Linked DNA regions of Homo sapiens: all the other regions are linked to region 1. Evidence: fine-mapped expression QTL. A gene starts in region 1. Each other region holds a variant in brackets. All regions are shown on one strand. Distances are between the middles of the regions.

Region 1 (8,269 bases):
TGTACCTGGAGACAGAGTCAGAGTCCCCAGGTTGAGGACTCAGTCCCACAAGACCACCCTCTCCATGACCCACCAGTTGTAAGTCGGGTTTCCTCCGGAACTTCTGACCAACCAGCTTCAAGCTGGGGTTCCCACGACTCCCTCTCTGGGTTTGATTAATTTGCTAGAGCAGCTCACAGAACTCAGAAACACACTTACCGGTTTATTAAGAAGGATATTTTAAAGAATACAAATAAACAGCCAGATGAAGAAATATATAGGGTGTGGGTCTGCAAGGGTCCCAAGCGTAGGAGCTTCTGTCCCCAGGAGTTGAGCGGTGCCATCCGCCCAGCACATGCGAGTTCTTCTTCACCTTCCTGTCAGCCTCCACAGGTTCAGCTCTCCAAAACCCATCCTCTTGGGTTTTTATGGAAGCTTCATGATGTCACCATTCCTTCCCCCAGTGTATAGGGTGGGATTCTCTGTGGGGAGGTTCTTAAGACCCACAATCAGAAAGGTGGAGAAGATTAGAGTCCTGCCTTGGGGCAGATAAGGAGAGGGCAGGAGAGAGATTCTGTTTCCTGAGGCCTGGCCCTGAGGCCTAACACACACAGCATTATAAAAAAACACCAACAATGGCTACGGGAGTTATGAGCCAGGAACACTGAATGAAAATTATATGTATTAATATACATTAAAATTAATTATATATGTATTATATATATTAAAATATATGTATATAATAACACAGGAATGAATGGGGAATCCCATGAAATCCTATTTACCCCTGGGGACTTCAAACGAGAATGTGTAAATAGTACCTTAAGCCCCAGGTAGGCAAGGACCATTATTTCCGTTTTCTTGGTTCCCTTTGATAAGCAAATTGACCAAATTTAGTAATTTCGAATTCATAGGCATTGTATCATCTACTTCACATGTTCCACAGAGGAATGCATTTCGGTAAGGATTATCAGAGACAGCTTTTTCTCTTAGGCAGGCAGTATGGTATATTGTGAAAATGTGGGCCTTGGCCGGGCTTGGTGGCTCATGCCTGTAATCCCAGCACTTTGGGAGGCTGAGGCGGGCAGATCACTGGGTCAGGAGTTTGAGACCAGCCTGGCCAACATGGTGAAATCCCATCTCTACTAAAAACACAAAAAATTAGCTGGGTAGGGCACCTGTAATCCCAGCTACTCAGGAGGCTGAGGCAGGAGAATCGCTTGAACCCAGGAGGCGGAGGTTGCAGTGAGCCGAGACTGCGCCACTGCACTCCAGCCTGGACAACAGAGACTCCGTCAAAAAAAAAAAAAAAAAAAAGGAAAGAAAGAAAATGTGGGCCTCCAGGTCAGAATGATTTGGGGTCAAGACTTTTTCTTAAACTTGCAACCTCAAGTGAGTCACTATCCTCTCTAGTCCGAGTTTCCTCAGCCTTGAGGTGGTGATAACACCTACCCTGCTGGGTGGTTGTGAAGATTAGTAATTTTGTTGATAAAGTGATCTCTTCAGGTATGGTCCAGATTGAGTGTTCTCAGCTAGGCTGTGCATTTCCATTAGGAAATGGGCTTTATTGAACTGGATATCCCTAGAGTCTAGTACAATAACATATATTAGGCACTTAGTAGCTGTTTATTTTTTCATTTTTTATTTTTTATTTTGAGACAGGATCTAGCTCTGTCACCCAGGCTGCAGTGCGAGGGCTTAAGTGATCCTCCTGCCTCGGCCTCTCGAGTACCTGGGACTACAGGCATGCACCACCACACCCAGCTAATTTTTTAACATTTATTTTTTGTAGAGATAGGGTCTCACTGTGTTGCCCAGTCTGGTCTCAAACTCCTGGGTCCATGCAATCCTCTCGGCCAGTAACTGTTTATTAAGCAAGGATCACATAAATACTCCACTAACAAGCTGGGCATGGTGGCTCACGCCTGTAATCCCAGCACTTTGGGAGGCCGAGGCGGGCAGATTGCTTGAGGTCAGGAGTTCGAGACCAGCCTGGACGACATGGTGAAACCCCATCTCTATTAAAAACACAAAAAATAGCCAGGCATGGTAGTGTATGCCTGTAGTCCCAGCTACTCAGGAGGCTGAGGCAGGAGAATCACTTGAACCTGAGAGACAGAGGTTGTAGTGAGCCGAGATTACACCAGTGTACTCCAGCCTGGGTGACAGAGTGAAATTGTCTCAAACAAAACAAAACAAAACAAAACAAAACAAAACAAAACAAAACTCCACTAACTTGTTAATTAGTGTATACCTTTGTATTGATCTATAACCTTTAACTTATTTATATTTTGTCTTTATTAATAGCCTCTTTGGGAAAATATTTTTCTTCTCCTTTCTCTTTAAAACACCTCCTACTCCCTCCCCCTACCAAGCTTAGAGCAAGTACATATTTCCAGGTTTGATTAAAGGCCAGAGTAGGATTTAGGAATTTCTTCAGAACACTGTTGAAACAATGCTGGAATATGACTTTGGATTAACATCCTTTTACCTTTCTAGGACTCAGCTCACACGACCATGATATTATTTTGTGGGTGGACTTTAAAAGATTTCTACATCAATTAAAACCTAGTTTGACTTAAGCCCTGCAAAATTTTACTTCCTTCCCAACAATAGGAAATCACAGCTCCCTTCTATGAGCAAAGTTGACTTGCAATTGCTCCTAACACATGTCAGAGGTGACACTTCACTCTTAAAGGTGCTTCTGAGGCTGCGGTTTCAAGAAGTCAGTAGTGTGAAAACTGGATCCCTATATGACAATTTTCAGGTAAAAAGAAAAAAGCATCAAGGAATTAAGAGTCGTACTGAGGGCTTCTTATTCTTCTAACTGATGATGATGATTTTTAGACAGGAGATATACGGACCTCGTATTGACTCTACTCCTAACTACGAACATGACCCAAGGACAATTACTTGAACTTTGGGAACCTCAGTTTTCTTATCTATAAGTGGAATTTACAAGGGGAAGATATGAGGATTGAAGGAGATAATGTATATGAAGTGCCTATGGAGCCGGGCACAGCACTTCACAACTGTAATCTCGGCATTTTGGGAGGCTGAGAAGGGAAGATCGCTTGAGCTTAGGAGTTTGAGACCAGCTTGGGCAATATGGTGAAACCCTGTCCCTACAAATAAAAAATTAAAAAATTAGCTGGACATGGTGGTGCCCGCCTGTAGTCCCAGGTACTTTGGAGGCTGAGTTGGGAGGATGGCTTTAGCCCACGGGGTTGAGGCTGCAGTGAGCCAAGATCGCACCACTGCACCCCAGCCTGGGTGACAGAGTGAGACCGTGTGTTAAAAAAACAAATAAATAAAGGGCCTATCAGTGTTTGGCTAATATTGTGATTAAGAATAAATCAGAGTTCCAATAAACTATTATTTCTAGAAAAAAAATAGTGAAAAAAATCACCTTAAAAATACCTTCCAAATTTTTTTCCCATTTACTTATTTGAAAACAGAATCTATTCAGGACAAAATTCTATCTTCAAGTACCAAATGGGTGATACAGTTCGCATTTATCCAAAAGCAGATTAAAGACAATGCCTTTTCTTGCCTACCTACTTGGAAAAGATCTCAGTGTCACTCAAATCACATTCCAAATCTCAACGACATTAAGGCCTCAAATCCTCTTAGGAAAGGTTTGAAGGTAGTTCATTTCAGTAATGATTAGACACTTGGGGACAAAACAGTACCTTGGCATCAAGGTCTGTACTGATTCACCAGCACAGAAATAGCAGTAACAAGATCTTCAACTCTGAGGTGTTCAAATAAGCAGACAAACTCCCTCGTGAGGCCCAGGCCTCTTGACATCCGGACTCAGTCTTTCTTTCTCAGATCGCCAAGGGTCTGGCCCATTTCTCAGCCTAAACCTATTTTGCGTTTAATTCAAACCAGTCAAAGTAACTTAACCGCCAGCAGTTAAAAAGCTACTAGGAGGAAGCGTAGGCAGGAGATGGGAGAGGAAAAGGCTCCTGTCAGGGTTTGGGCTTATGTGTGGATTCTTGAATTCTCCTTCTTTGTTCCTTTTAGCACTTACGATCAAGAACGGCTAGGCTGAGGGGGCAGGGGGGCCAGGCCACTGGAGCGAAACGGCCTCTCCGGATCTGGAGGCGTGGGAACCTCGGGAATAGTGGGGAGTTCCAGACCAGTTCCCTTCCCCCATCTGAACAAGTCCAGAGCGTGCGCCTTGAGAGGCGCTCGGAAACAGGGAAGCTGGGGACACGTAGCGAGAGACTGGTTGTCGCCCTGGCTGTCCGTCTTAGACCTAGCTTAGCGACCACCGCCTTCAATCCCTCAGCCCGGATCAGACGGTGCCAAAAGACAGCACTGCTTCCCAGCCTGGCCCAACGGCTCGGCTGCTGATTGGGCACCGCCGCCTCCCGCCCCGCCTCCCCTGCCACCTCGGGCGCCGCTGCACGTTTCCACTGGTCTTCAGCCCTGCCGATCAGTTTACTGCTCACCTCCCCCAAACAGCTCGTCAGGCCGGCGCGTGCTAGGAAGGCGGGGCCTGTGGCCTGTGGGGCGGAGCCTCGGTGGAGGTCGGCGCAGCTGCCCCTTTGGGCTTTGGCTCTGGACTGGAGCGCAGCATCCTTCGAGGCTGCAGCCGCCACGGCTGTTGCCGTAAGCAATCCTCCTGCCTCAGCCTCCCGAGTAGCTGGGACTCGGGACCAGCCTCCCGAGTATTGGTCAGGTAAAGAGAGTCTTGTCTGTTCTGCTGGCCATCTGCCCGTCTCTTCTTCCCGACCAAAGGCTGCCTGCTCCGCCTTCCCCCGTGGCTTTCAGGGTTCTTGGAATGAGGCATCAAGTCTATTTACCCCGCCAGCTTATCTTCCTCCCCTTCTGTGTCGGTTCCTCCAGCTCCCCCACCAAGCTGCTCCCAAGTACGTTGGTGGGCCCTCCGGGTCATCCCAACGCTCCTCACTACAGAACTCCTGTCGTTGACTCTCAGGTCCCAGCCCCCTTGACCCGCCAGTGCAGTCTCATTCCCAGCTTGGCACAGGAAAGGTGGAGGGCGGGAGGGCGGGAGGGCGGGGGACGGAGAGATGCAGAGCTTTTTTTTTTTTTTTTTTTTTTTTTTGAAGCTGGATGTGTTTAGCGCAGAGGGGGAGCACCACAATGGGATTGCATTGGGAACAGAAGCAGCTTCATGACTATGGTTGGCAATGACTAGAAAGGTATCTGTTGCTGCTTTTTGCTTGTGTTTATAGATGACATTTACCATCACCGTTTTCTTCTTCTTTCATCATCATCATCATCACCATTGCCACTACCACCACCTCCAAGGCCACTACCACCACAGCATCTCTGTTCCTCCATCAGAGCTCTTCAAGTTCTGTAAAGGCAGATTCTCTAAAGGCATGTAAGTGCTGACGGATCCCCCAACCCCCTCCCCCACCACCAAATAACGAACAGTGCTCTTGCCCCCTGAGGCCAGAGCCAAGCCCTCATTTAACTCAAGAACAAGTAGCTGGGAGCAGAGTGTGAGCTGGGAGGATTTTCCTTATCCTCATTTGCAATTGAGATTGCCAAAGAAAACCCTTTATTTTAATCATCCACATTTCTGCTTGCTGTCTCCTGGAGAGTTCCATGTTAGCACTCACACACTCCGAATGGGCTGAATGCAGAGCCTGAACCTGTGATATATATGGGGAGTGGCAGTCACTGAGAGGTGAATGTCCAGACCCAATCCTTTAAGAAGACCAGGTGGAGTAGCAGACAACCTGACTTTCTGCTACAGTAGCTCCAGCTGTACTAAAGCATGTTTACTATTCATGTTTGCATATGGGACATGTGCCATCATCTGCTATGCCCCCTTGCGTGTGTATTGGCAGGGGGGCGGAGGGGCGCATCTAAATTCCTAGGAGAGAGAATTATATTCTGTTCTCTACACCAGGTAGCATCTTATAGGCACACCAATGGGATTCAACAGCCGTTGCTTAGCTGTTTCTAGGGCTTACTGCAAATCTCTTGGATCACAGACTTATTAACCCTTTTTTGGGAGGGAAAACAGTATAGCTGAGAATTGCATACCAGATTAACTGTCGTTGTGGAAGATGTTGCTTCCACAATGAATCAATGAGGTCTCGGGTCTTCTTGATCAGATATCTAAACACTAGTCTCCTTTCTCTCAACTGTGTTACAGTCCAGGAGCAGGACCAATGAATAGTTAGACATATTGCAGGAACAAAGAAGCAATGGCCTCAATGGAGGGAAACAATGGAGAAGAGTAGTGAGACAGTATATTGTAATGGCTAAACTCATAAACCTGTCAGACATAGGTTCAAATCCTGGACCAGCCACTGACTAGCTCAGTGATTTTTGCAAGTTGCTTGCCTCTTTAATTTTAATTTCTCGTCTGTAAAATAGGGATAATACTACCTGTCTCTTAGGAGAAGGTGTGAGGATTAAACGAGATAATATAGGTAAAATACTCAGTAGTTTCTGGCACATAAGTGGGGAATTTATAGTAACTGCTATTAATAATACTAGTCAAGAAGGATAATAAAGGCCAGTCTCGTTCCTAAAAATTATGCATTTTTTTCCATTGTCTTTATCCTTTTTAGGTGTCAGAGCTGATGCAAATGGGGTATGGTAGTCTTCAGGTTCCTTATAGCACTACATCTTAGAGGGGTGCCACTATTGAAGCCACCTGTGTTTGGACAGGCATTTCTCTCACCAGCCTTCACAAGTACTTAGCCGATTCTTAGTTGAGATACGTTAAAGATGCAGCTTTAGAGAAGATTTCCAGGCCTCTGGCCCTATTCTAGACTGCTTCTTTCTCACTGAGTGTTCAATGCATTGACTGTGATTGATGAAGCCTTTGTCACAGGCTTAACCCTGCCTAGACCAAATGCTTTGGCCAAGGGAATGGGGTCCCATAGGACCTATGATTGTCTAAGGGTAGGTCTCATATCCTGGTCATCCTCCCTTTCCAGACATAAAATTGGTGGAGCTGTTCCCAGAGGAAGAGGAATGGGGACAGACTGGAACTTGATGTGATGATGGTAAATATCCTTGATAGAAAATTGAGAAATGCTTCTCTCCTATCTCATATACCATGCCTCAAAGTCTAGTTTTACGTTAAAGTTTTGGATTCATGCACACCATCCCAAGCTGTGGTGTGCTTTAGATGATCTTGCCTTTAATGGTTTTCTTATTAAAACTTTATTCGTATCAGTGTAAAAGTTCATAATGGATATTTCATATCTTGCAGTGATGCTACTGGTTGGTAGTATGACCACGTTTAGGGGCTATTCATAATCTCTTTTTGGGACCTGGTTTTAAGAGTAGCTATTATTTTTAGATGTACATAGTCTCTGTCTTAAATATCAGCTTAATTCTCAACAGGTCCCAGCCTGTGTTGACAGAATTACAGCTGTTAATCTGATTTGCCTGATCTTGCAGAGACGCTAAACCATGGGAATTGTATTCTCCTGCAGCAAATATAAGCTTGCACCAACAGGCTGGCACTGTGAAGGAACTGAAGCATCTCTGTATTTAGTGTCTGTGCTGAAGTGCTGACAAAGCATCAACCCCATGCTCTGCAAAATAGTAATTACTAAAGCGGGGAGATGTAAAGAAGGAAACAAACCTCTTTACCTTGTCAGCGCATAAAAGCAAGGGTCTGAGAAATGGAGCATTCCCTCTCACTTATGTTTCTCAAGTTCCCTGGCTAAAAGTAAACAATCTCCCAGAGTAACCTGGATTTCTGTGCTTATCTACGCTTTCAGCAAATACTGCCTTAGTGCATGTTTGAGGATGAGGGAGAGAGAAGAGAGTTGGTCCTCCTTGTGGACATCCTTACCTCCCCACTGGCCTGAAATGACCATGATCTCTGTAATGCATCTCTCTAGGAAGCAGACTACTAGTTAAGTTTTTTTTTCTTTAACCAACACACCTCCTATTTCCTTAACTTGATACTGACTTGTTTTATGTTCCATCTTATTCGAACTATGCCTATCTCTTCCTTCTAAAGTGTCATAGGTCACTGCTAATGATGAACACCTTTCAAATGAAACGCTTTTTTACTGTGGTCTTCCACGTGACAGGCTATTGGGCAAAATATTTTGGAGGTAGCCAGGACTTTTTTTTTTTTTTTGAGATGGAGTCTCGCTCTGTTGCCCAGGCTGGAGTGCAGTGGCACGGTCTCAACACACTGCAAGCTCCGCCTCCCGGGTTCACGCCATTCTCCTGCTTCAGCCTCCTGAATAGCTGGGTCTACAGGTGCCCACCACCACGCCTGGCTAATTTTTTGTATTTTTAGTAGAGATGGGGTTTCACCGTGTTAGCC
Region 2 (8,269 bases), 61 kb after region 1:
CACCCAGCTAATAAGAGGCAGAACCCAGAGTCACACCAGGTCTGGCCGACTGCAGCTGCAGTCCCTCATCTCTTCATGACTGTGCCTTGTAACAGGGGATGAGTTGAAAACCTGGAACACAGCAGAAGGGCAATTTGTTGGGCAAGCTGTATGGTGGTGGGTTCTTTAAGAAACCGCAGTACCTGATGCTCCCCTCTTAGCTCTGATGTCTGTAATCATGTAGAGAAGCCATACCCCAGTGTAAAGAAATGTGCAAGCATTTTACATAGTATGTTGAAAGGAAATACATTGTCCGGTGGTGGTAGGAAAAGTAATTTCTTGTATGGAATCTGAATAAAAATCAGAATCCTCTCCTGGGAAGAAATGTGGACACTTCTTTGGTGATATCATTAAACATTATCCTCTGAGCTCATTAATCTGGGGCTCTACTGATCAGTCATGTCTTACTCTTTGGGATTAGTTTGGAATCATACAGATTTCCTTTTTCCTCTTAGAAATATATATAGCTACCCTTCTCATTCAAGGTAGGCAGAGGGAACTCTGGAATGCTTCTAAAACTCCTACCCTGGCCTCTTAAGTAGAAGAGGCAAATGTAGAAGAGGTGCTTTGCTACTGAGTGCAGGCAACAGTGAAGGTCCCATGGCAACAGGGAATGGGGAAAGGCAAGGGTGGCATGGGCTGAAAGCCAGCTGTGAATAAGAACCACCAATTTCAGTGACATCTGTGGGTACACACTTCATTGCTTACCCAGAACTTTTACATACATTGTTATCAGATTCTCTTAAAAATCCCTGTTTGGGGAGGGTATGTTTTTCTGTCTTTTTTTTTTTTTTTTTTTTTTTTTTTGAGACGGGGTCTTGCTCTGTCGCCCAGGCTGGAGTGCAGTGTTGTGATTTTGGCTCACTGCAACCTCTGCCTCCCGGGTTCAAGCGATTCTTCTGCTTCAGCCTCCCAGGTAGCTGGGACTACAGGCTCCCGCCACCACGCCTGGCTAACTTTTGTATTTTTAGTAGAGACAGGGTTTCACCATGTTGGCCAGGCTGGTTTCGAACTCCTGATCTCAGGTGATCTGCCTGCGTTGGCCTCCCAAAGTGCTGGGATTACAGGCGTGAGCCACCATGCCTGGCATGTTTCTGTCTACTTTAAAAAATTATTTATTTGGTTATGTTCTACCTCATTCCAGAAATCATTTAAGGGACTTGCATTCAATATAGCAGATAAAAATACCTTTAAAACAGGTGATAGAAATTAAAGAGAAAACATTGTTTTTAGGGTTATATTGACCAGCACAAATTTATCTTGACTGATGACACATTTCAGAGCCAAACCCTGTAGAGCCATTACCACGATCCTTGCTTCTGTTTTTAGGAGGAAATAACTAAAACATGGTTCATCAAAAAAAACCACTTGCTTAGACATTTTCACCCTGAAATCTGTTATAAAATTAGGAAGTGGGAGTTTAAGAACTATTCCATAGTCCTATTTGAAGCTCTTCCCAAACACGTCTGTCTCTGTGTTTATGGTTATACGTCTTTCTTGTCTACGTGGGTAGACTGTATATATGCATAAAAATGTGTGTTTTTCATATTCTCCCATGAAATTTAAACCTCTCCAAGACATATACTTTTGTGCAATTTTTAACAGTCCTGTCCCTGAAGCAGATAATGACATCTCTCTTTGAGTGAGGATGGAGCTAAGACTCAGAGAGGGTACCTTGCTAAGTAAACAGCAGAGGGACAACATTGATGTTAAATCCTGTGTCCTCCCTTTGTACCACATTGTGATGTCATGGGGATAATTTCAGTGGCCATGAAGCCATCTGCTCTGAACTTAAGTAGTGAACACAGCTCCATCATTCTGATTATTTATATTTATATCTACAAAAGCATTCAAAACATTTTTTATTCAACAAATATTTATTGAATCCCTATCATATATTCATCATTGTTCTAAGTATAGTAGACAGAGCAGTAGGCAAAACAGAAAAAAGCAAAGCTAATTCCTGTCCTCATGGAGCTCACACTCATTCTAGAAGGGTGAAGACCAAAACATAATCAGCCAATTGTATACTCTATGTACAGCAGGGCATGTGGGTGATGGGAAAAGACATTCCATGGTTTTTTTGGTTCATAGAATAGAACAGTTAGTATTGGTACGCAATGCACGATAAGAATTCTATCCAGTGTTAAGTAGTATATTTTAAGAACATTGCATAACCTTGGGGAAGTAACCTAACTGATTCCACTAGCATTCCAACAGAGAGAGTCCCATCTTACACAGTCCTTGCCAGCCAAGCTCTCGGTTTCTCCAGCTTCACTAACCTCTGGCACGAGGCCTCCTTGTTCCTGAGGGAACTGCTTTTCTCATATTTCAGAAGGACAGTGCATACTTGTGTCAAGCTGAAAGGGATCTTTCCTACTTGATGCCAGCGAGAAGCAGTGCCAGGGAAGACAGACTGACAGAGCAGACATTCTCCTCCCTAACTGGGTTATTCTGTGCTGTGCTGTGCAGTGGCTTATCTTATTTTGAGATCTTCCTGCTGTTGTCCAGTTTGTACCAACATTGCAAAATCAATATTCTCTTTATTTCTAAGGGCACATTTTTACAAAACAGGACTTCAGAAAAAGGGTGAGATGATAAAGACTCTCAAAAGGTTACACTGGCCTTTTGAAAAAATAATTTATGTAGAGAACCTTCTAGCGCAAGATCCTCAAATAGTTGTATATTTAACATCTAAAGTGCAAGTCAAACATTTTGTGTGAATTTTGACACTTAAAAAACATTCCTTGGGAGACCAAAAAAAGCGGGGCTTTGGAAGATAATATGAAGGGAGAAACTCAAAAAGCAAAATATTTCCCATGTATAGGCTACCTTTATTTTAGCTGTGAAACATTGTAACTCAAAATGTTTTCCTACTTATTTATTTATTTTTGAGACGGAGTCTCACTCTGTCACCCAGGCTGGAGTGCAGTGGCACGATCTTGGCTCACTGCAACCTCCACCTTCCAGGTTCAAGCGATTCTCCTGCTTCAGCCTCTTGAGTAGCTGGGATTACAGGCATAAGCCACCACGCCTGGCTAAATTTTGTACTTTTAGTAGAGATGGGGTTTTGCCATGTTCGCCAGGCTGGTCTTGAACATCTGACCTCAGGTAATCTGCCCACCTTGGCCTCCCAAAGTGCTGGGATTATAGGCGTGAGCCACCGCACCTGGCCTTCCATTTTTAAATTTTTCAGAAAAAGTGAGATAGCTGAATGTCAGAGAGCTTAAGCAACTTGTAGGATCATAGTTCTTTTCTTTCTTCTCCTTTCGGTGCTCTCCACTTGACTTTGTGGCCCACAGCCCAAACGTTGGTTGTGAGGCTACCCCAATCGACTACTGTTTCCCCTAATGTCTAGCGGATCTAGAACTCCCATAGTGCAGCAGCCAGGTGCAAGGTGAGGTGATGAGGCAGCTAGAGAACTTGTTTTGAAACTGCATTTACATGCCAAACACACACTTTTTATTTAGATGGTTGTTCACTGGGTAATTTGGGGTGAGGTGAGGTGGAACTGTTACCTCAGCATCCTCCCCCACAACTGCCTCCTGAGACATCCCTGGGCCATCCAGTGGCATCCTTGCCACAGTTTTGTCTCTTTATTTAATTGTTATGTTATTTTCTATAATCCCACTTAAAATTGTAAATTGGCTGGGTGTAGTGGCTCACACTTGTAATCCCAGCTCTTTAAGAGGCCGAGACAGGAAGATCACTTGAGCCCAGGAGTTTGAGACCAGCCCGACCAGCATGGCAAAACCCTATCTCTACAGAAAATACAAAAAATTAGCTGGGCATGTGTTGTGTGCCTGTAGTCCCAGCTACTTGGGAGACTGAGGTGGGAGATCACCTGAGGGAGTTCAAGGCTGCAGTGAGCGATGACTGTGCCACTGCACTCCAGCCTGGGAGAGTGAGACCTTTCCTCAAAATAAATAAATAAAAAATAAAATGAGATGTAGAATTAATTATCTAATTTTGTAATTTATTAGGTCTACTTATCATTTTATAGATGGCTGGCATGGCTTATAAAAGCTTTGTGGTTTGATCTTAGTATCCTGGACTAATGTTTCATCTATAGCACAGGTTGGAAGTCGGCACACCTAATTGTGCTTTTCTGAACTCTGAGCAAATAGTTTGATATATTTGCCCTTAGTTACATTTATTATAAAACGGGTAGAAACGTTAATGTTCCTTCCATTGTCCCAAAGATGTATCAACATGCCCCTGTGGCTTTAGGATCCTTTGAAGAAAGCATTCATACTTACAGTTATCATTAGCCACAATTACAGAAACTGTGGGGTTGAGAAGGTCATCTAGCCTCATCTCTATTTCTAAGCCAGAGTTCCAGAGAGTGACTTTCCTTAGGTCAAGTAGCTAATGGGCACCAGAGCCAGAATTAGGAAACAGGTCTCTAGCACTCCAGTTAATGCTCTTTCTTCTACAGTTTCTATGGCCCTGTTCGTACTCTTTGGCCCAGCCATTTACAGAGAACCATAGATCTGTGTTCATATTGTGAGAGGTTCCTTAGAGACCAGAAGACTGATCTCTGAGAAGCTCAGGGACTGTGTCTTGCTCAGAGTCGCAGAGGCTGTAGGTGCTGGAACTGGGACTAGAGACCAAGTCCCTGACTCCCAGCGCACTGTTCTTTCAACCACACACTCTCCTTCTTTGTTGATGGCTGTGCCTTGGGAGGGTTCTAACTCATAACCTAAAGATCCCCATGAACTCAGTTGCATAATCC[C/T]CTCTTCCTTGTGAGTTAACTGTTGAGGGACACACAGTTCTATGTAGTGATGGTGCCTGATGTGGGAGGCAAAGAGATGCAGTGCTTGGCCCCCTATCCCTGTTATAAGTCTGTGACTTGGGGCACTTCTGTAGGCCTGGGTTTTACAAAGCGAGGGCAGTTAATTAGGCATTCCTTTCTGTTCCAGAATTCTGTGGTCCTTTCCCAGGCATGTATGTTTCTTCATGTTTTGTCCAGTAGAGGGGGGTGTGTGCTCACAGACTAACAACCCCTCTGGACTTCTCCAGGTTGGATTATTGTGGAGACATCTTGAAGATGTGGTCAAAGAGGTACAGGTCCAGGCAGGCATGTGCATGGGAGGAGCTAGAGACAGTGATGGAAGAGTTCAAGTGGCTGTGCTGTCTGAAATTACAAAAGGAAATTAAAGGTGTTCCTAGGAAACAAATCACCAAGGCCCCCGAAGTTCTTTTAGGTTTATGTCTCACCAAGAAGAATAATAGGCTGGAAAGCTGCAGGTTTGGATGTTCCTGTTGCAATTCTTCCCTCCGCTCTTAGGTGTGGTGAGTATCCTGGGTATAATACATGCATATAATATTAATACTGCAAACGACCTGGCACTTTTCTGTGACTTACAGAGCTCTAAATCAGCTCTGGTCTGAGGCTCCTTTTCCAAATGACATGATGTGGGCTACATTGGAAAGAAATATAGTATTCCTTACAGGAGCCAGTTGCACACAGGCAGCTTCTTTATGCCTGAAGCCTACGTGCTGAGTTCTGAGAAAGACTAGCTGATTCTTTCATCTTGAAAGTGATAGACTACAGTAGTACAAGAGAGCGGGAATGAGAAGTGTGGTTATAGAGAAGCTGAAGCTGTTGAGTAGTTTTGGAGAAGTGCTGATTTATTGAAAATATTCAGCTGCTTATATTTGGTATTATTAGAATTGAGACAAGCATATTACAGCCAGGAAAGAAGGAAGAGGGGGAAGGGGAGACAAGCTGAGGACTTAGAGAGTGAGTAATGGGAATAAAGAAAGGAGGGAAAAGAAAATTCTTGACTTTCTTCCAAGCCAGCTGTGGAAGATGTTATTTTAGATCCTTTGCCTAACTGGTCTGAATGATTGCCCCAGGTGGAAAGGAAGGCAAAGGTCATTTCGGGGCACTTCCTGGGACTTGACTGCCTTTATCTTGTTCTTGTTCTCTCCTTCTTGTAGAGAGGGTCAAAGCAGGTGTGGAAAAATAATGATCCGTGCTATTCAGACTAGTATCTTTCTTTGGGGATCTTAAAATGCTTTTATCACATCTACTTAAACAGCATTTAATAGCATGGTAGAGATGTTTCACTCACTTGAGGCTGCATTGCCCTCAGAGGCCACTTACCTAGTAAGTGTTGACTACACCTTTGTACTGCACTTTTCCAGGGCTCAGACCTCCCCTCCCCATCAGTTTCCTGATGGCCTATCCTCATGGCTGCTCGGGCTGGTTGCTTTGAGGAGGTGGCCTACAGTGATATTATCTCTCTGCATGAAACTCACAGTGGGGTAGTTGTATTTTTGAAGGATATTTCCTGCAGCAAGCACTTGGTGTTGCATATTATTACGTTCACAGTTTGTGAGAGATCATGAAGAATATGCAGTGGTCTGGGCCACACTGACACACAGTGAGAAAGTATATCAATGACTAGTTATGATTAGAGATCGTTTTCAACACTTGTTTCCATCTTCAGCTGACATTTACTTGTTCAGAAAGAGAGCCATAAAAGTCAATAAAAATAATAACCATGCACATCTGCACATCCTGATTTTAATACAGCTTTTTTTTTTTTTTTTTTTTTGAGATGGAGTCTCACTCTGTCACCCAGGCTGGAGTGCAGTGGAGCGATCTCAGCTCACTGCAGCCTCTGCCTCCTGGGTTCAAGTGATTCTTCCGCCTCAGCCTCCCGAGTAGCTGGGATTACAGGTGTCCACCACCACACCTAGCTAATTTTTTGTATTTGTATTTTTTGTAATTTTTTGTATTTGGCCAGGCTGGTCTCAAATTCCTGACCTCAGGTGATCCACCTGCCTCGGCCCCCCAAAGTGCTGGGATTACAGGCATGAGCCACCGCACCCGGCCTAATACAGCTTTTTACAGTTTACAGTGCTCTTTCATAGACATTATTCTATCTGATTCTCCTACCAACTCTATGACAACCATCACAAGTATTGTTTGCTCTACAGATGTAGAAACTGAAGCCTAGAATTGAAGTAACCTTGGCTAAAGAAACACAGCTAGTAAGAAATAGAACCAAATCTCCCATCTAGTTTTTCTCAGTACAAGTTTTAAAAATTATAACAGCCCAAAAATAAAATAAATAAAATTAAATCAAAACATCTTAATAGACAAGCAAATGTAAGTGTTTTGACTCTGAAACGAATACAGACTCTAATAATATTCAGTGTGGTATTACATACATACTGGAGACTCAAATTATTTTTAAAACTAATACATAAAAACTGCTCCAAACCCTAAAACTCTGAAATTATCACTTAATGATTTGGGCTTTTGAAAATGCATATACCTATTAACAAAATTGCCTTATATCACAGCATTTTCTTGTCATCAAAATTGCTTAAAATTAATTTTAATGTTTGCACATACTCCAGTGGATGAAATCACCTTAATTTTTTAAACCTCCTTATCTCATTCTTAGGTTGCTGATCTTTGCTATAATAAACTACAGTGCAGCCCACAACTTGTCTCAATCTCTGTTGATATTTCTACATTGTTTCATAAAACTGATTCTTAACCTTAAGCATTTGAAAAATTGTCTATATATTTAGTTTTGAAGTGTGTATATTTATGTATATACATGTAGGGCAATATTTTGAGTTCTGTACAGTCTTCTGAACACAACGAATTTCTCCTCAATGACATAAATAGTTATAATAAATAATGAAAATAGAAAGAAAATGCTAGCAGGGCAATCTTAACTGGCATAAGAGGAAGGTTTTCTGAATTTGCAGGAACTTGGATCAAGAATGAAAAAATAGGCTGGGTGCTGTGGCTCATGCCTATAATCCCAGTACTTTGGAAGGCCAAGGCAGGTGGATCACGAGGTCAGGTGGATCACGAGGTGGATCACCAAGGCAGGTGGATCACGATGGATGAGACCATCCTGGCCAACATGGTGAAACCCCGTCTCTACTAAAGTACAAAAAAAATTGGCTGGGCATGTTGGCGTGTGCCTGTAGTCCCAGCTACTTGGGAGGCTGAGGTAGGGGAATGGCTTGAACCTGGGAGGTGGAGGTTGCAGTGAGCCGAGATTGTGCCACTGCACTCCAGCCTGGGCGACAGAACGAGACTCTGTCTCAAAAAAAAAAAAAAAAAAAAAAATTGCTAGTCAACTCTTTTCTGGTCAGAGGTGTGAGCCATGGAGGCAGTCTGGTTATCTTACAAAATGTCTCAGACTTGGAGTAAAGCCCTGGGTCCATATCTTGGCTCTGCCAGTGATCAGCT
Region 3 (8,269 bases), 83 kb after region 1:
CTTTATCACAGGCAGTTTTGCTGGAAGAGGCTGGAATGGAGTGCCAAATAATGAGCAGAAATAATTTAAGCCTGGGAGGTGTTAAAAAATTAAAAAAAAAACTTTCGACAAACTAAATTTAACAGAATTTAATTGAGCAAAGAACGATTCTTGAATCAGCCCCCAGAACAAGAATAGGCTTAGAATGACTTCAGGGCTGCCGCATGGTCGGATAACATTTATAGACAGAAAACGGAAATGAGGCATAGAAACAGCTGGATTGGCTACAGCTGGGCGTTTGCCTTATTTGAACACGGTTTGAACAGTTGGCTGCCTCGGATTTGTTGCAACTTGGCTGCTGTGATTTTCCAAAGCTTGTCCTTGGATGAAGCACAGATTAATGTGAACCAAGGATACTTTAAAAGAGTTTTATAAACAGGTATAAAGGAAAGTAGAACATTATGCTTCCTAGACTAGGTCAATCCCAGTGAAAAAGTTAGTCTACGTTTACATCTTTTTTCTGTATAAATGGGGATTTAAGTAACTACTAATAAGGCTAAGGAAAACCATAGTACTATCCAAATGCCAGGGACATAGCTAAAACTCAGGAATGTCTTTTTATAGTTGGATCTCTATAGTCTTTCTGGATATACCTTTAAGGTGAGTGATTACAGTCCCCATTCACCCTAAGAAAATTCTTTAATTCAGCCCAGCCCAAAGCTACCTGAGAAACTTACTATTATTGCAAGCAGGTGTGTGAGAGAATCTAGTTGAAATGAATAATGATGCAAATGGATTTGCTGGTTGGAGTAAAGGTGGTGGAGAATTCCTCTCATTGGAAGCTGCTAAGGTTAATAAAATCTCATGACCACAAAGAGTTAAGAGTCAAGCCATAAGGTGGAAAGGGAACTTCTAAGTGGTAACTGAAAGTCTGGCCAGAAATAGCAACATGGGAGCGGAGCATAGGTTTAGGGATATGAGAGGCAGGAAGGGTGAGGAAGAACAGGTTTAGAGGAAACAGGCAAGAATTTCCAGACAATTACCTGATGCAGGTGCTGTGCACAGCTGGATTTCAGGTGCTCAGTGTATTGTGGTTGTGGAAGAATTATTTGAATGTAAAAGATAGGAGAGGTGGGGGAGGGTGTATGTGAGGGAGGCTGGCAAGACAGCAAGTTTGTGTGTGTGCGTGTGTGTGTGGGGGGGGGGGGCTTAAGGATGAAATCCAGTTTCCTTAGCAAGGCTGTACACAAGGACCTCAACCTGAGCCTTGCCTACCTCTTTCATAAGCAACCCACATACCAGTCCGTTGAAAATATGCCATCTTCTTACACATACATTCTTTTATGTGTACATGTTTCTTCTGATTTGACTCGTTAGATTTTATTCATCCTTCAAGTATTATTTCCCATGAGAAGTGTCCCATTGTGACTCCTAGCCTCCCACCCTCCTTATAGGACAGCCTTAGGCAACTCTGCTCTTTATTTCTTAAGTACTCTCCTTTTAACACTTAAATTCTAAGAATTTATTTAGTTCTTCATTTTCCCCATGGGAGACTGGACTCCTTGAAGGCAAGGGCCTTGTCTTAGTTATCTTTGTATCATATGATTCCGTGCCTGGCATAGTGGGTGCTTAATCAGCATTTTGACTGATTGATAGATGAAGTCTTGAGGACTCTATAAAATCAATACATGGATCATATATTGAATGAAGGATCAGTGCAGGTCAGTTTATCTTCTGAGGCCTGCCCAGCCACCAGACCCCTAAACTTTTCAGTTAGCTGGCTGGACAGTAACGTAGAGATGCTTGCATCTTTTCAAACATGGATAGGCAAAATAAGGGAGGGGAAAAAAGTTAATTTCCAGAAGTCAAAGATCTTAAATTTTATCAGCTAAAGTAGGATTATTTCTATTCCTTTAATGATAGTTCTGTAGTTGTTTTGGGGCATTTGGGTCATGCTACCTGTCAGGTGATGAGAAATATGGAGTTTATAGTTTAGGAGACATTACAGCAGTTGTGACTATTTACCCACAGGCTCTCTCCAAAAGAAGGTGCATTGTTGGTCATGTGGCAGGGGAAGGAAATCCTAAGTGCTTTTGTCATGAGACGAGGAGAGACTCGCGTTTGCGTGGTGTTCTTGGGTACACAAACAAGCGACTGGATGATTCAAATGATTGGATCGACAATGACTTGTTTCTGAAACGGAACAGATGTGACAGACAGGCTTCCGGAATCCACTGGCCACACATTCCATGTTCAACACTTATGCAGATTCTTTGCAAAATATTCATATTTTTATCATTTCTGCATATATTTATGTTTAGGTCTAAATGTTCAGGCAGCCAGAGGCCAATTATTTCTTCTTATGTCACTGTCCAGAAGTTAGGCTTTTAGGATGCTATACTTTAGAGTCCTGAGCTGCTTCATTCCTCGTCCTTGGACAAGCAAGGACTTGTAGAAATAATAACCCATAGGCCTGGCCTAGGAGGCCATGTGGTGCCTCCTGTCCAATCTTGCAGCACATTGAGATATAAAGGGCAGGCACTAGCAGTAGTGTCCTATAGGACCTTGACGGCAGAACAGGCTCAGAGGGAAACCGGGCTGACAATTCTGAACAGAGCTGCTCCAAGAGAAGGTGTTGGGTAGGAAACCAGCTTACAAGATCTTGGAGAACTGCCAAGGGGAGGAGGCTTGACTTGGACCTTAGATAACTGAGCCTAGAGCAATTCCTGAGCTAAGGAGCAGGTAGGTGGCTAAGGATCTGGTTTCCCACACTTGTGGGTGAAAACATCGTTAAGGCTAATTAAAGGAACAGTAGAAGCAGTTTCCAGTCAGGGTTTCATTGTTAAAGAAGGCTCTGTTTTGAAGTGTGCTGGTACCTCAGGGGCCTCAGCTGTAAGACCGTCTGGAAGGAGTCACAGATGAAAGAACTGACGTGGCCATGGAAGCTGGCTCTGAGGTGGAGCACCAGGAATCCAATGCACAGTGTTCAACGTGGGGCCCCTGTCTAGAAGGGGGAGAAGTAACAGAAGGTGGGTGGTGGTACTATTTAAATTGGGGTATGAGGTGGGCTGTAGAGGAAGGTGCCTCCGTATACTGACACTGGATGATTTTTGTGTTTTCTGTAGGAGCGCAGGTATTGACTAAAGATGGGGGAGCAGGGTCGTACTTCATGGAGGAGCAAACTGTTGTTGGAAAAAAGAGGCTGCATAATTGTCTATATCGTACCCTATGTTCACATCTATGTTACATAAACAGTATAAGACAACAACAAAAATTTTGTAAAGAAAGAAAGGCTGGAATGAAATCACTGAACTATTAATTGAAAAAAATAAGCTTATATAGTTTAAAACAATAGATAATTCAAATTTTGTAGTGGACCTACGTTACAAATACATGGCAACACTCATCCTGTTTAATTACTTCACTGAAGTTGTTTGAATTCATGTCAAGGAGCCCACTGACCTTTAGGTAAGAATATGTCAGAAAGTGAGCAACCCCCTAACAAATGATCACACAGTACACAGGTCAAGCTTTGGCCACAAAGCATCCAAATTACACCAATAAATGCAGATATTTGAAACAGCATATTGAGAGGTAGATATGCCTTGGGGGTGTTAAACACTTTGGTTGTACTTTAGATATAAGTATTTTGTTCTTTTGTTCCGCCACACTGAGGCATTGTGAAGAAAATAGAGAAGACACTGTTGTCAAAGCACCTAACAGCGAAGGTTCTCTTAGACTTTCCCTGCCTTCCCCTTTGTCCCAGTACACCAGGACTGCCTAGGGCAGCTGTAACCTGGAGGCTTAACCTTTCTGACGATATAAACCCAGTAGCTGTGTAGGCCTTG[A/G]CATTTGGATAACTCTGCTGCAAATGCCCTTCATTTCTTGCCATTTACCCACACCACTTCCTAGCAACCCACATTTCCCATGTGATCTCTAGCAGAACAGGGAAAATATCCTAAAATTCTGTTGATTGGGCAGCCGTGACTGTTATCACGTACTCAACAAGTAGTGGTGAAAAAATACACCAGATGTACAAGTAGAATATAGGCCAGTCAGTTGATGAGCTGGAATTTTTGTAACCACCTTCTTGCCTCTAATATCTTTGGAGTGTTTTTATGATAGGGGTTAAACTAAGCACTAGTGCCTGAAATTCTTTGCTGCAGGTACCGAATGCTCTTAGGTTCGGCATCTCTAGGGAACCTTTTAATTTCATTGCATAGTTGTGCTTAGTACTTGTTTAATGGAGCAATAACAGTTCCTCTTTTCTTAATTAAAAGAATTATGTAAGAAAACTAGTACAGAACAACAAAATCTTCTATAATCCAACCACCTCAACTCTTCATAGAGATAGGTGTTTTTAAATAACAAAGGTCATGGAAACAAAATTATATAAAAATATTTTGTTTTATGCACTGCCACCTAACATTATTTCAAACTTCTAATGTTTATATACCATCTCTTTAATTATACCTTTATAATTTTAAGGGGTAACATTTTATCATGTAGATGACTATGGTACTAAATCCATTATTAGACATTTAAATTGTTTCCAAGTTGAAACCAATAAAAATGCTGTGGTTAAAATCTTTATTTATATAGCTTTTTGTTTTCATAGACATGAAATTGTAAAAAGATACAAAAACTTTGTTAACACTACAGTTCTTTCCAAAAAATTACAGTAAAATGTGATACAACCAATTCATATAAAATGGTAACTTGAGTCTTTTTAAAAACAGCTTTATTAAGATATAATACACATGCCATATAATTCACTCATTTAAAATGTACAATTCAGTGGTTTCTAATATATTCAGTTGTACAACCATCATCAAAATCAACTTTATAACATTTTCATCACCTCCCCCAAAACCCCCATACCATCAGAAGTCACTCACCATTTTCCCACAACCCCGTCCAGCCCAAGTTATCACTGAGCTTCTTTCTGCCTCCGTAGATTTGCCTGTTCTGGAAATTTCATGTAAGTGGTATCATGCAATATTGTGGTCTTTGTGACTGGCCACATCTACTTAGCATGTTTTTGAGATTTTTTTATAGGCAAAAGATACTCCTTCATATGGATATAGCACATTTTGTTTATCCATTCATAAGTAGACAAACATTTGAGTTATTTCCACCTTTTGGCTATTATGCGTAATGCTACGAACATTTGTGTACAAGTTTTTGTGTGGACATGTGCTTTTATATTTCTTGGATTTATTTCTAGGAGTGAAATTGCTGAGTTGTATTCTAATTCTTGATTTAACCTTTTGAGGAAATGCCAAGACTGTTTTCTGGAGCTGCTGTACCATTTTAGGCTCCCACCAGCAATCTTGTGAGAGTCCCAACTTCTTCACAGCCTCATGAACACTTGTTGTTATCTGCCTTTTTAATTATAGCCATCCCAGTGAAGTGGTATCCTACTGAGGTTTCGATTTGCATTTCAAAGGATCCTTTAAGTTTTTTTATTTTTTAAATTAACTTGTGTAGGGTTGAAAGCATTTTACAATGTACATTTTAAAAATCAGTGTGATTTATAGAGGGCATGTGCAAAGCACCATGGAAAACACACAAATGAATCATCTCATAGATTGTGAGGGAAATGGAAATATGCCATGAGAAATGAATGTAAGGTCAGGAATAGCATACCATAAAAATGTAAAACTAACATTTGAATGGCAGTTTATAATTCCATAGCACTTTTTCACATGTGTTAACTCATTTACTCGGAATAATTATCATAATTGCTGTACAAAGGCATCTTGAAAAATGTAAAGGAGTTGTTTTTAGAACTTCTTTAAGGTTAGTAAAAATATACTGCATGCCAAGACATTAAAAATTGTTTTAATGTGGGAAAATTTTAATGGACTAAAAATACTGACAAGTTGTTCTTATTTTTGTTTTAATAACAGAGAAAATGGCTAAAGGAATAGCAAAATAGTTTTAATTGGGATTTAATATTGCATTTTTAAATAAAAGACTGTTAGTCATCAAAATGCTTTAATGATCTGTGTTTATATAAATTTAATCTGAATATAATCAAATATTAAAAAGAAAAAGAAGCGTCAATGTGAGGGGCGGGGGGACGTGTTTTACTGATATTATTTGAGATGCATGACAGAATAGCTATTCTCAAAAAATGCTCTCCTTGGTTAATACAGAATTTTACCTTTTTGTTACAAAACTATTATATGGCCATTATAGAAAAATATAGAAGATTCATAAGGATACGAAAAAAACCTTCCATTATCACCACCCATAGAAAAATTACTGCTAAAATTTACATTTATTTCCAGTCTTTTTACTGTACTTTAAAAAATTTCCTGAACTTGATACATAACCTTTTGGTTCCACATGTTATAAGCATTTCCTGTGTTTTTTAACTTTTCATAAATATTGTTTCAGTTATTGTGAACAATTCTGCAAAGAGAATAGACCATCTATGTATTATTTACCTAATTCTGGACACTTTACTTGCTTATGGTTTTTTAGTGTCCTAATAATCTGACAGGTATTTTTGCATAGAATGTTTGCATTTTAGAGAATTTGTTTATGGTAGATTCCTAGGAGAAGCGTTATATTGTCAAAAGTATGACAATTATCAGTTATTTTAATATTTATTACCAAATTGTTTCTCCAAATTTTATTCAATATACTTTTTGCCTGAAGAGTATTCGTGCACTTACCCATTTATGTATTCAATAAATATTTAATGGGAACTTGCTGTGTCCAGTTGCTAGGTGAAGTGCTGGTGCTAACTTAAACATCCATGGGCACTGTCTTACTTTTTTAGGTTTTTAAGGTTTTAGACTTCCTGATTTACAGTGAAATGTTCTTTGAGCTTGCATTTTTTTTTTTTAACTTTCATTTTAGATTTGGGGATACATGTAAAGATTTGTTACATAGGTAAACGTGTCATGGGGGGTTGTTGTACATATTATTTCATCACCCAGGTATTAGGCCCAGTATCGAATATTGTTTCTGTTTCTCTCCCTCCTCTCATGCTCCCCCATTAAGTATGCCCCAGTATTTGTTTCCTTCTTTGTGTTCATAAGTTCTTACCATGTAGCTCTTGCTTATAAGTGAGAACACGCAGTATTTGATTTTCTGTTCCTGCCTTAGTTTGCTAAGGATAGTAGCCTCCAGCTCCATCCATGTTCCCACAAAAGACATGATTTCATTCTTTTTTATGGCTGTGTAGTATTCCATGGTGTTATATATACCACATTTTCTTTATCCAATCTGTCATCGATTGACATTAGGTTGATTCCCTGTCTTTGCTATTGTGAATAGTGCTCGCATTTCATTTGGCTTGCAATTCTTTTAGCTATTACTAATGGTGTTTAAAATTTCCCCATACTCATTGGTTGTTTATTTTTATTTTCCCTTTGGCCATTTATCTATTAATGTTTTGACAAAAGTAAGGAAACTATAGTGGATTTCTATGTTGTTTTTGTACAGGAACCTCAAAAACCTTACTTGCATTTTAGAACAAAGACATTCGTTAATTTAATAAAATATTTTAGTTTGTTACTAAACCAAGTATCCATCTTTGTCTTGAATAGAGTCTAGCACACTCTAGACCAAGTATGTTTTATGCCTTCCTTGCTTTTGGGAGAAGAAATAGGTTATAAATGGTAAAGTTATGACAAGTTTGCTAGGTTGTTTAGTTTATTCTTGGGTTAATTGTAGGCATGGGGACATTTTTAGTATTAGACTGGATAACTCCTTCTCTGTCCTGGTAACTGATTGATTGTCTGAAGGATTCATATTGGGAGGCAGAGTGGTAATCAATATTGTAGGCTGAGGTCACTGACAGAGGCCAAAGACAACAATGTGTGAAATTTAGGATGAATTGCTTTTTGGGTTTTATCTGGATTTACTAAGACAGGGGAGTTGTTTGGGCAAATGTTGCCTCTTGAAGGTCTCTTTGAAGTGACCATCTAATGAATCAAGGAAAAGGCAATTAAATCCCTCTTGGTGAGAACATCAAAAGAGGAATAGGATATAGTTACACATCAGGAGCCAAGGGCTATCAGTTGACCTTTCTTAAGAGTGGGGAGAGGAATTTGAATGATTGGGTAGTTTTCATTATATAGTAGCCTTTTAAAAAATCCTTTAACTTTCTTCTTTTTTTCTCTTTAAGTTCAGTTTCTCCAGGCCTCTTGTTGTTTAATAGCAGAGTTAGAGAATTATGTTATCTACCTTGCAATCTAATAACTTAAGCTGTTTTTTCTTGGAGGGCAAGGAGAGTAAAATAATACTATTTTGAATGTATTTTCTCTTCTTA

The links. PIP is the estimated chance that this variant, and not a neighbour inherited with it, causes the effect.
Region 2: its variant is fine-mapped to the expression of FMN1 in testis (GTEx, PIP 0.91).
Region 3: its variant is fine-mapped to the expression of FMN1 in whole blood (INTERVAL, PIP 0.95).

What each region holds. Positions count from the first base shown.
Region 1 is chr15:33,190,978-33,199,246 of GRCh38, reverse strand. FMN1 (formin 1) reads left to right here and starts at 4,533. Exons shown (of 21, transcript NM_001277313.2): 1 at 4,533-4,669; 2 at 5,187-5,338. It overlaps LOC105370759 (a long non-coding RNA gene), which reads right to left and starts at 4,336. Exons shown (of 3, transcript XR_932090.3): 1 at 3,672-4,336; 2 at 1-5. RefSeq lists silencers at 4,231-4,440, 4,215-4,554.
Region 2 is chr15:33,129,665-33,137,933 of GRCh38, reverse strand. The region is part of intron 4 of FMN1 (formin 1); the gene reads left to right. Among named protein-coding and RNA genes, the nearest start is that of FMN1, 61 kb to the left of the region's middle. The variant C/T (reference allele first, on the strand shown) is at 4,775.
Region 3 is chr15:33,108,410-33,116,678 of GRCh38, reverse strand. All of the region lies in intron 4 of FMN1 (formin 1), which reads left to right. Among named protein-coding and RNA genes, the nearest start is that of FMN1, 82 kb to the left of the region's middle. The variant A/G (reference allele first, on the strand shown) is at 3,828.